Linked DNA regions of Homo sapiens: regions 1 and 2 are each linked to region 3. The links come from fine-mapping of genetic effects on gene expression. A gene starts in region 3. Each other region holds a variant in brackets. All regions are shown on one strand. Distances are between the middles of the regions. Region 1 has its middle 16 kb from the start of MREG. Region 2 overlaps PECR (peroxisomal trans-2-enoyl-CoA reductase). Region 3 holds the start of PECR (peroxisomal trans-2-enoyl-CoA reductase).

What was found. PIP is the estimated chance that this variant, and not a neighbour inherited with it, causes the effect.
Region 1: its variant is fine-mapped to the expression of PECR in whole blood (TOPMed, PIP above 0.99).
Region 2: its variant is fine-mapped to the expression of PECR in thyroid (GTEx, PIP above 0.99). The same link has a PIP of 0.9 or more in whole blood.

What each region holds. Positions count from the first base shown.
Region 1 is chr2:216,028,668-216,031,431 of GRCh38, reverse strand. It overlaps a transcript of MREG not described here and a transcript of PECR not described here. Among named protein-coding and RNA genes, the nearest start is that of MREG, 16 kb to the right of the region's middle. The variant T/A (reference allele first, on the strand shown) is at 1,179.
Region 2 is chr2:216,036,253-216,039,016 of GRCh38, reverse strand. PECR (peroxisomal trans-2-enoyl-CoA reductase) reads left to right here. Exons shown (of 8, transcript NM_018441.6): 8 at 1-629. Among named protein-coding and RNA genes, the nearest start is that of MREG, 24 kb to the right of the region's middle. The variant G/A (reference allele first, on the strand shown) is at 1,313.
Region 3 is chr2:216,080,430-216,083,193 of GRCh38, reverse strand. PECR (peroxisomal trans-2-enoyl-CoA reductase) reads left to right here and starts at 1,385. Exons shown (of 8, transcript NM_018441.6): 1 at 1,385-1,576. The coding sequence starts at 1,453. TMEM169 (transmembrane protein 169) reads right to left here and starts at 1,275. Exons shown (of 3, transcript NM_001142311.2): 1 at 1,215-1,275. RefSeq lists a silencer at 1,174-1,433 and enhancers at 1,624-1,673, 1,704-1,783.

The DNA.
Region 1 (2,764 bases), 52 kb after region 3:
TTTCTTTCTTTCTTCCTTTCTTCCTTTCTTCCTTTCTCACTCTGTTGCCCAGGCTGCAGTGCAGTGGTACAATCTCAGCTCACTGCAACCTCTGCCTCTTGGCTTGAAGCAATTCTCCTGTCTCAGCCTCCCAAGTAGCTGGGTTTACAGGCGCCCACCACCATGCCCAGCTAATTTTTGTATTTTTAGTAGAGATGAGGTTTCACCGTGTTGGCCAGGCTGGTCTCGAACTCCTGACCTCAGGTGATCTGCCTGCCTCAGCCTCCCAAACTGCTGGGATTATAGGCGTGAACCACCATGTCTGGCCTATGCAACTCTTTCTAACGCGTTGTTACCATTTTACTTGGAGGAATGAAACAGAAGACAGATATTTCAGTGAGATACAGAGCAGATGTTTTGATGAGCAAGCAAATGAGAGAGAGAGAGCAGGGACAGAGTGTGTGTGTGTGTGTGTGTGTGTGTGTGTGTGTGTGTGAGAGAGAGAGAGAGAGAGAGAGAGAGAGAATGGGCCTCATAGTGGGCTTGTGTGTTCAAATTGGAATGCCGAAATAAATTGCCCACAGAATTAATTAAACTATGGAATCAAAACATCTGTAATCCTAGCACTTTGGAAGGCCAAGGCAGGCAGATCACCTGAGGTCAAGAGTTCAAGACCAGCCTGGCCAACATGGTGAAACCTTCTCTCTACTAAAAAAAAAAAAAGAAAGAAAGAAATACAAAAATTAGCCAGTTGTGGTGGTGCATGCTAATAATCCCAGCTACTTAGCAGGCTGAGGCACAAGAATCGCTTGAACCTGGGGGCGGAGGTTGCAGTGAGCTGAGATTGTGCCACTACACTCCAGCTTGGGTGACAGGGCGAGACCCCGTCTCAAAAAAAAAAATTGCAAAATATTTTGGGTAACAATAGCTAGCATTTATTAGGTGATTACTATATGCCTGACACTGCTAAGCCCTTTCCATGCATTATCTCATTTTAGCCTTACAAAAACTCTGTGAGGTAGTTTCATTATTACCAGCATTTTACAGTTGAGGAAACTGGCATGAACAGGTCAAGAAACTTGTTCAAGATCTCAGCACATGGCAGAAGTGGCATTGGAACCAAAGGAGTTTGGCTTCAGAGCCCCGACCCCTGCCCTGTACTGAGAGAGACAGACCAGCACCAAGGACAATGAAGAGAT[T/A]ATTTTGAAAATTTTTAATGGAATTTCTCAAACACAGGCTAAAGAGAATAGTGTAATAGTACCCATCACCCCCAATAATCTATATTTTTACAAATTTGTCTATCTGTCCCCCTTGATTTATAAGTATTTTAGAACAAATTTGAAACCTAAATCTTCTTTATAACCTTTTAACCTGTCATTTCAGAGCAAGCAGTAATTTTAAGGTGGTTGAAAATATGAATGTGAACACAAAGATGGGGCTCACAGTGGGAGACTGGTCCACCATGATAGCATATGAGAAGCCCATGTGACCACCATGAGCATGTGCACCGACCACAGGCCATAAGAGATACGACTCAGCCATAGGCTACAAACATTTGGTTTGCTTGGCATGCACATTCCTCTCTTGTAAAATGATGCATGAGACTCTCAGAGCTAAATTCATTAAACCATCTCCTTTTCCTCTGAATCCCTGTCAAAAACAAATCTAAAACTTTGATTTGCTGTGCAACTTTGCCTGAAGGGAAATACTGGACTATTCTGGCCCTAGGCATTTTCAGCCATGCTGGGAGTTTTGTGTTAGTCTAGGCTGTGTATTTCAGCTTCTGGCGAGTTTGTGAGCATGACTTAGCATCCTTGTATTTTGAGAACTCTGGAAAGAGGGATAACAAGTTTGTGTTTCTAGTTCTTCAAGCCCAAGGGCCAGCCTGGAGGCAGGGGGAGGTGCATAAGCACCTTCTGCCTTGTGTTTATCATTTTGCCTTTGTCGTCCTAACTCAGCAGCCTCAATCCTTCTTTTGAGATGGAGTCTCACTCTCTCGCCAGGCGGAGTGCAGTGGCGTGATCTCAGCTCACTGCAACCTCTACCTCCCAGGTTCAAGCAATTCGCCTGCCTCAGCCTCCTGAGTAGCTGGGACTACAGAAGCGCGCCACCACGCCCAGCTAATTTTTGTATTTTTAATAGAGACAGGGTTTCACCATGTTGGCGACGATGGTCTCAATCTCTTGACCTCGTGATCTGCCTGCCTCAGCCTCCCAAAGTGCTGGGATTACAGGCGTGAGCCACCACGCCTGGCCAGCCTCAATCCTTCTTTACATCTGCTGCCATCAAGCTGCTTTCATCCTTTTATTTTACAGGAAATTATTTATTTCCTTTTAAATAAATAAATAAAGATGAATATAACATCTTTTTTATTGTACTGGTATTTATTTTGGAATTGCTACTTGTAAGTGCTCTGGTCAGAAATTTGTGTATCTTGAGTGGTCTGCACTTAACTCCATATTCCAATGGGGGGAAAACCAAAACTGTGTCTCTCTTTTTCTCTCTCAGAGAAAAAGCCTTATTTTTTTCTTCCTTTTTATGTTCTTTTTCTTTATTGTGGTGTAACTAATATATATAACATAAATTTTGCCATTTTAATGATTTTAAGTGTGCAATTCCTACTGTTGTTATAGACAATTACAGAATTGTCTGTAATTGGTAGAATTCAAATTTCTCAAACAGCAAGATAAATTCAAATATGCATTACCTTAACACTATACAAATTCGAATTCCCAAAATCCAAGTATGTTTGAGAAAATATCTAGAGTACAGTGAGAAAAAATGG
Region 2 (2,764 bases), 44 kb after region 3:
AAGTATTTGAAAAATGGAATAATTTTAAATCAATGATAATTCTAGGGATCATGAACTCCCAGAAGATTTTATTATTTAATTGTAAAGGTAGAGGCCAGACGCAGTGGCTCACGCCTGTAATTCCAGCACTTTGGGAGGCCGAGGTAGGCGGGTCAGTTGAGGTCAGGAGTTCAAGACCAGGCTGGCCAACATGGTAAAACCCTGTCTCTACTGAAAAACAACAAAAACAAAAACACAAATTAGTCGGGTGTGGTGGCACACACCTGTAGTCCCAGGTACTTGGGAGGCTGAGGCAGGAGGATCGCTTGAACCCAGGAAGCAGAGGTTGCAGTGAGCTGAGATCATGCTACTGCAGTCCAGCCTGGGCTACAGAGTGAGACTGCATCTCAAAAAAAACCCAAAAAACAAAAACAAACAACAACAACAAAATTATAAAGGTAGAAAATAAACCTAAATTGTGTCGTAATTAAGATTATTAAAATTAGAATTATACAATGACTTATTTTTGGTGGCAAATACTTTAGGAGCAATAATGCCTTATGGTAATTATTGATGTATAGTTTCTTTTGTTTATGAAGTCAAATTTGTATAAATTCTCTTAATTCAAAGAAAAAGTTTTATGTGATTTATTTTTGGCAGTGCCTGATTTGTGTCTTGATTTTCTGTCCAAAGTATTCCCTTTTTTCCATGTATCTCCTTTTGTAGGCAAAAACAAAATTTCAGTTGCATGCAAATGTATTAGGGTTCCATATTCTGCCTTCCGTGGCTCCAGTCTGATAGTTAGACCCTTATTGAAGAAATGCCTTTAGCAGATTGAATATGTTCATTCTTTGTCTTAATCAAAGTTCTTTCAAGTATCTGAGGTGAAGTAGCTATTTTCTTTTTTTTATCATTAACACTCACTTTATTTATTTATTTATTTATTTATTTTTAAGATGGAGTCTCACTCTGTCACCCAGGCTGGAGTGCAGTAGCATAATCTCGGCTCACCACAACCTCCACCTCCTGGGTTCAAGTGATTCTGCTGCTTCAGCCTCCTGCGTAGCTGGGATGACAGGTGTGCACCACCACGCCCGGCCAATTTTTGTATTTTTAGTAGAGATGGTGTTTCACCATATTGGCCAGGCTGGTCTTGATCTCCTGACCTTAAGTGATCTGCCCGCTTTGGCCTCCCAAATTGCTGGGATTACAGGTGAGAGCCACCACGCCCGGCCTGTCATTTACCCTCATTTTAAAGTGTGTGAGTTACCAAGCTCTGGGGTTTGGGACCCAGAATCTGCAGCTTTCTCATGCTCCCAAGCAGGGCTAGCAC[G/A]AGGGAGAGGCTAATGAGGTGCCCAGGGTGCAGCATTTAAGGAGCTATTCTCCATTGTCAGGTTTGTGCCAGTGCAGAATTGCCCCTGAGAGTGAGTGTGTCCTTCAATTTTGTGCTCATACTAATAATGTGGGAAGATCAGAAAGCTTCATTTTCCTCCCAGATAGCCCTTTAACAGTGGCCTTCTGGAACTGATAATATCATAACAACTGAGAATTACAAACCATGTTAGAGGGAAAAGTGGCCCTAATACAGGTTGGTGGAGAAGATGGAAAAGGCAGGGCTTGCTTTCACATGACCTGTGTTAATGACTGCCATCGACTCCTTAAATCTCCATAGCGTTGCCAGTTATTTCTGCTTAAGGGACAGAACCTGCCTATGTAGCACTAAACTTAGGTACAACTGCTTATTAGAGCTTCTTCTTAGACTATCACTGGACAGCTGGTCATTATCTATATTTTTAGAATTATGAATTTATTATCCAGGACTCTTATGTACATCATAATAGTATCCTGTCAATAATGTACTTTTGCAACTACGCTTAGTAAATTTTGTTGTAGAGTGACTGTTCTTGAATAGGCTTAATAATTTGGAGCACCTACTATGTATTTAGCATTATGCTAGGAGTCAGACATGCAATGGTGAAAAAATACACATGTATCTTGTCCTTACTGAGCTTACAGTAGGGAGAGATTGAGAGAAAGAGAGAGAACACGAGTGCTATAAAGGATAAGGCCATGATGTCCACGGCATATAACTGAAAGACAGGAAACAAAATGAAAATTCTATATTTATGTAAAAAGAGTTTGTTGATAAAGATGACCCTTGTGAACATTATACCTCCCCCACACTAATCTTATGCTTTGTGGCTTATGTTCAGGTCCTCTGAAAAGCAGGTGCCCAGACATAATGAGATTTGCATGACACTTATTGGGTACCAGGCCCATGAAGGATAAGGGCAGGGAGCCAGAGAAGGCAGCGATGGCCTTCAGACCATGCTGCAAGGCTGACCCCTGTAAAAGAGAGGGGAGAGAGGATTGGGCAGGAGGCATCTCAGATTGCAGCAAAGTGATGCTTTCTTAAGACAGGCTTGCTGAAAGTATGCATTGACATTTACAGTGGCCCACAGGAATACCAGCAGGCGCTCAGTGGGTCATGTGGATTCTCTACAGTGTAAAAGTAACTCTCTCTCCTCCTGCTGGTGCCTGGACAAAGGGAGTTCAGAGATCAGTTCCAGCATCAGTCATAGTTTGTAGCTCACTGGGACCTTATGTCCCCTGGCAAGAGCCTCCCTCTTTGGCACCAGGATTTCCAGTGCTGCTATTCTCCTTAAATCCTGCAGCAGATCATTGGGAATGATGGAATGCAGGGCCACTCCCAGTTTCATCTACCGGATCCCAGACATGGTCCCAAACCTACTGGGGACATGCATCTTTGAAGACAGCAAGCACT
Region 3 (2,764 bases):
ATAAACTATCTAGCAAATGGTAACCAGGAGATTTATTCCTTTCTTTAACGAGTGTAGATTTGAATCTGTCAGCAACAAAGATAGAGGGAGAAGTGATTCTAAAAAGAGATCAGAGAAGGACAAGAGGATGGAGCAACAGGGAAGTGTAGCTGTCCAACAAGAACTGCAGCCTCGCTGGTGGGTGGGACCTGGTGGAGGAAGTGATGGTCTGATTCCTCTGTCAACCAGACCCATTTCCAATTGGCTTTGTGAATCCTAGGTGGTAGGTCCAACAAAAGGATGATGGCATTTATTTGCCTTTATATTATTTTAATACCTGTCCGGGGAAAATGCAACACTCTGACAACAGCCTTAGAAATAGCATCCCATCTGGATTGTTAAGACCACAGCAACTGGCACATTCGACCAAGTTCTTAGGGTGAAGTCTCAGTAGGCCAGTCCAGGTGTAATCTCACTCTGGTGGGTTCAGAGCGGGAAGCAAGATGAAAAATAAGGAGCAGATCTGAATAATAAATCACTGTTACTGGGCACCATAACACAGACGAGAAATTTTCCCCATCCTCAGCGGGCTCACCCTCCTGCACAAGGAATGAACTACAGGACATGATCTCAAACACCTACAGATGCATCTTGCAGGAAGCGTGCACCCTTCAAGGAAAGATCCTCTTCTGGACTCGCTATGCAGCTCAGCTGAAATGGATCAGGTCTCAAACCTGGTAAAGATGATCTTTCCCCTTGATTCTTGGGTGGGGAGTGGGAGGTGAGACGGAGGTGGGCCTGAGTTTATTTTTTCAAATCGTTTATTCTCTTGGTTCTGTGGAAAACTGCAACCGCATCTCCTCTTCCCCTTCACTCTCTTTCCCGGGCTCCCTCCCGAAGGATGAAAGGATCTGAAAGCCGCATTTCTCCCCCTCAGCTAAGCCTGCCCTTTCTCCCCTTCCCAGCCAGCGGCACACAGCACCTGGAGCCACAGCATCGCCGACGTCCGACCCCGGCAGGCGGGCGCAGCGAGGGCGCCGAGCAGCAGCCTTTCTTTTTCCAGCTGCACTGGAGATTTAATTTTAATTAATCGTGAGAGCTTCAGCCCTGAGGATTGAATTTTTGAAATAGAGCACACCCTGCTTGTTTCTTTCTTCTTCTTTTTTTTTTTTTGCATTTCCCTTCCACCCTCCCCAATGGCATCGAAATTTAAAGAAACGAACGAGCAGTCTCACCCACACCTGCCCAGGGACCGACGCTGGCGGAGGTTGCGGACAGCCGGCGGGGAGCGGTTCTGCTCCGGGAGGATGCGGCTTTGCCGCGGCCGGCGGGCGGGGCGGGGCCGGGCCGGGGAGGGTGCGGGGTTCTGGTGGTCACGTGGGCTCGAGCACCGCCCTGTCCGCCCGCCCGCCTCGAATGTCCCTGAGACCCAGAAGGGCCTGCGCTCAGCTGCTCTGGCACCCCGCTGCAGGGATGGCCTCCTGGGCTAAGGGCAGGAGCTACCTGGCGCCTGGTTTGCTGCAGGGCCAAGTGGCCATCGTCACCGGCGGGGCCACGGGCATCGGAAAAGCCATCGTGAAGGAGCTCCTGGAGCTGGGTACGTGAGCGGGCCGCTGGTGCAGAGAGGTGGCTGTGGTGACCTGGGGTAACCTGGAGACGGGAGCCAGGAGCTCTCGGCGGGGCTGAGGGAGTGTGGAGCTGCAGAGCAAAGACGGGGCAGGTGTGGGCGAAATTACGACCACCAGGGAGACAGAAGAGAGCAGCTCTTCCTAAGGAATTGTGGAGCCACTCGTTAAAAACTGAAGAGACCACTCAGGCCAAAGAGACTGTGCCCCAGGTAGGCAGTAAGAAGAGCAGTGAAACATGCTGTGCAATTAGTTTTATATTCAGATTTAAAATTAATCCATTCTATATGCTTAATGTGAGTGATTAGGAAACGTGGGAAGACTTCATTTAACTGGAAAAAGTTGTGAACATAGTGAGTCTCTCATAGTATCTTCTCACATCTCTTAACCACAGCAAGGAAATATGCTGAATATTTACCTTAACTTGGGTGAAGGAAGGCCTTTGTAAACACATAAGTGAGGGAATAAACCACAAAGGAGAACATAAATCAATCTACCTGTATGAAAGTGTAAATCCTCATTGAATTAAAAAAATATATAAAGTTTAAAGGCATATGAAGAAAAATATTTGCAACATAAGATAAATTGTTTGTTGGTTTTGAGATAGGGTCTCACTCTGTTGCCTACGCTGGTCTCGAACACCTGGGTTCAAGGGATCCTCCTGCCTTGCCTCTGAGTCCTAAAGTTTTGGGATTACAGGCTGAGCCACTAGATTCGGCCAACAGCCTTATACATAAAGAGCTCTTACAAATAAAGAAAAAATCCAACACACTGATAGAAAAATTAGACTAATGGTATGGACTAAGCGTTCCAAAAGAAGAACTACAGACAGGCAAGAAACATATGAAAAAATAATCAACTTTATTGGTAATAAAATATGAAACAGTAAGATTTAACTTTTCTAACAAAATTTTGAAATGTTGGGAAAAATTAAAGTGTTGATGCAGGAATGAGAAGGCAGGAATGTAAATTATTACAAACTTTCTGGAAGGCAATTTGGAAAAAAAGATCCAAAAACCTTCACAATGTTTATGCTCTATGACAGTAATTCCTTTTTCAGGAATTTAAGGAAACGGAGTCAAGCAAAGATTTTCATGCAAGGATGTAGTCTTGAGTAGTGAAAAAATGGAAATTACCTAAAAATCCAATATAAGGAAAAT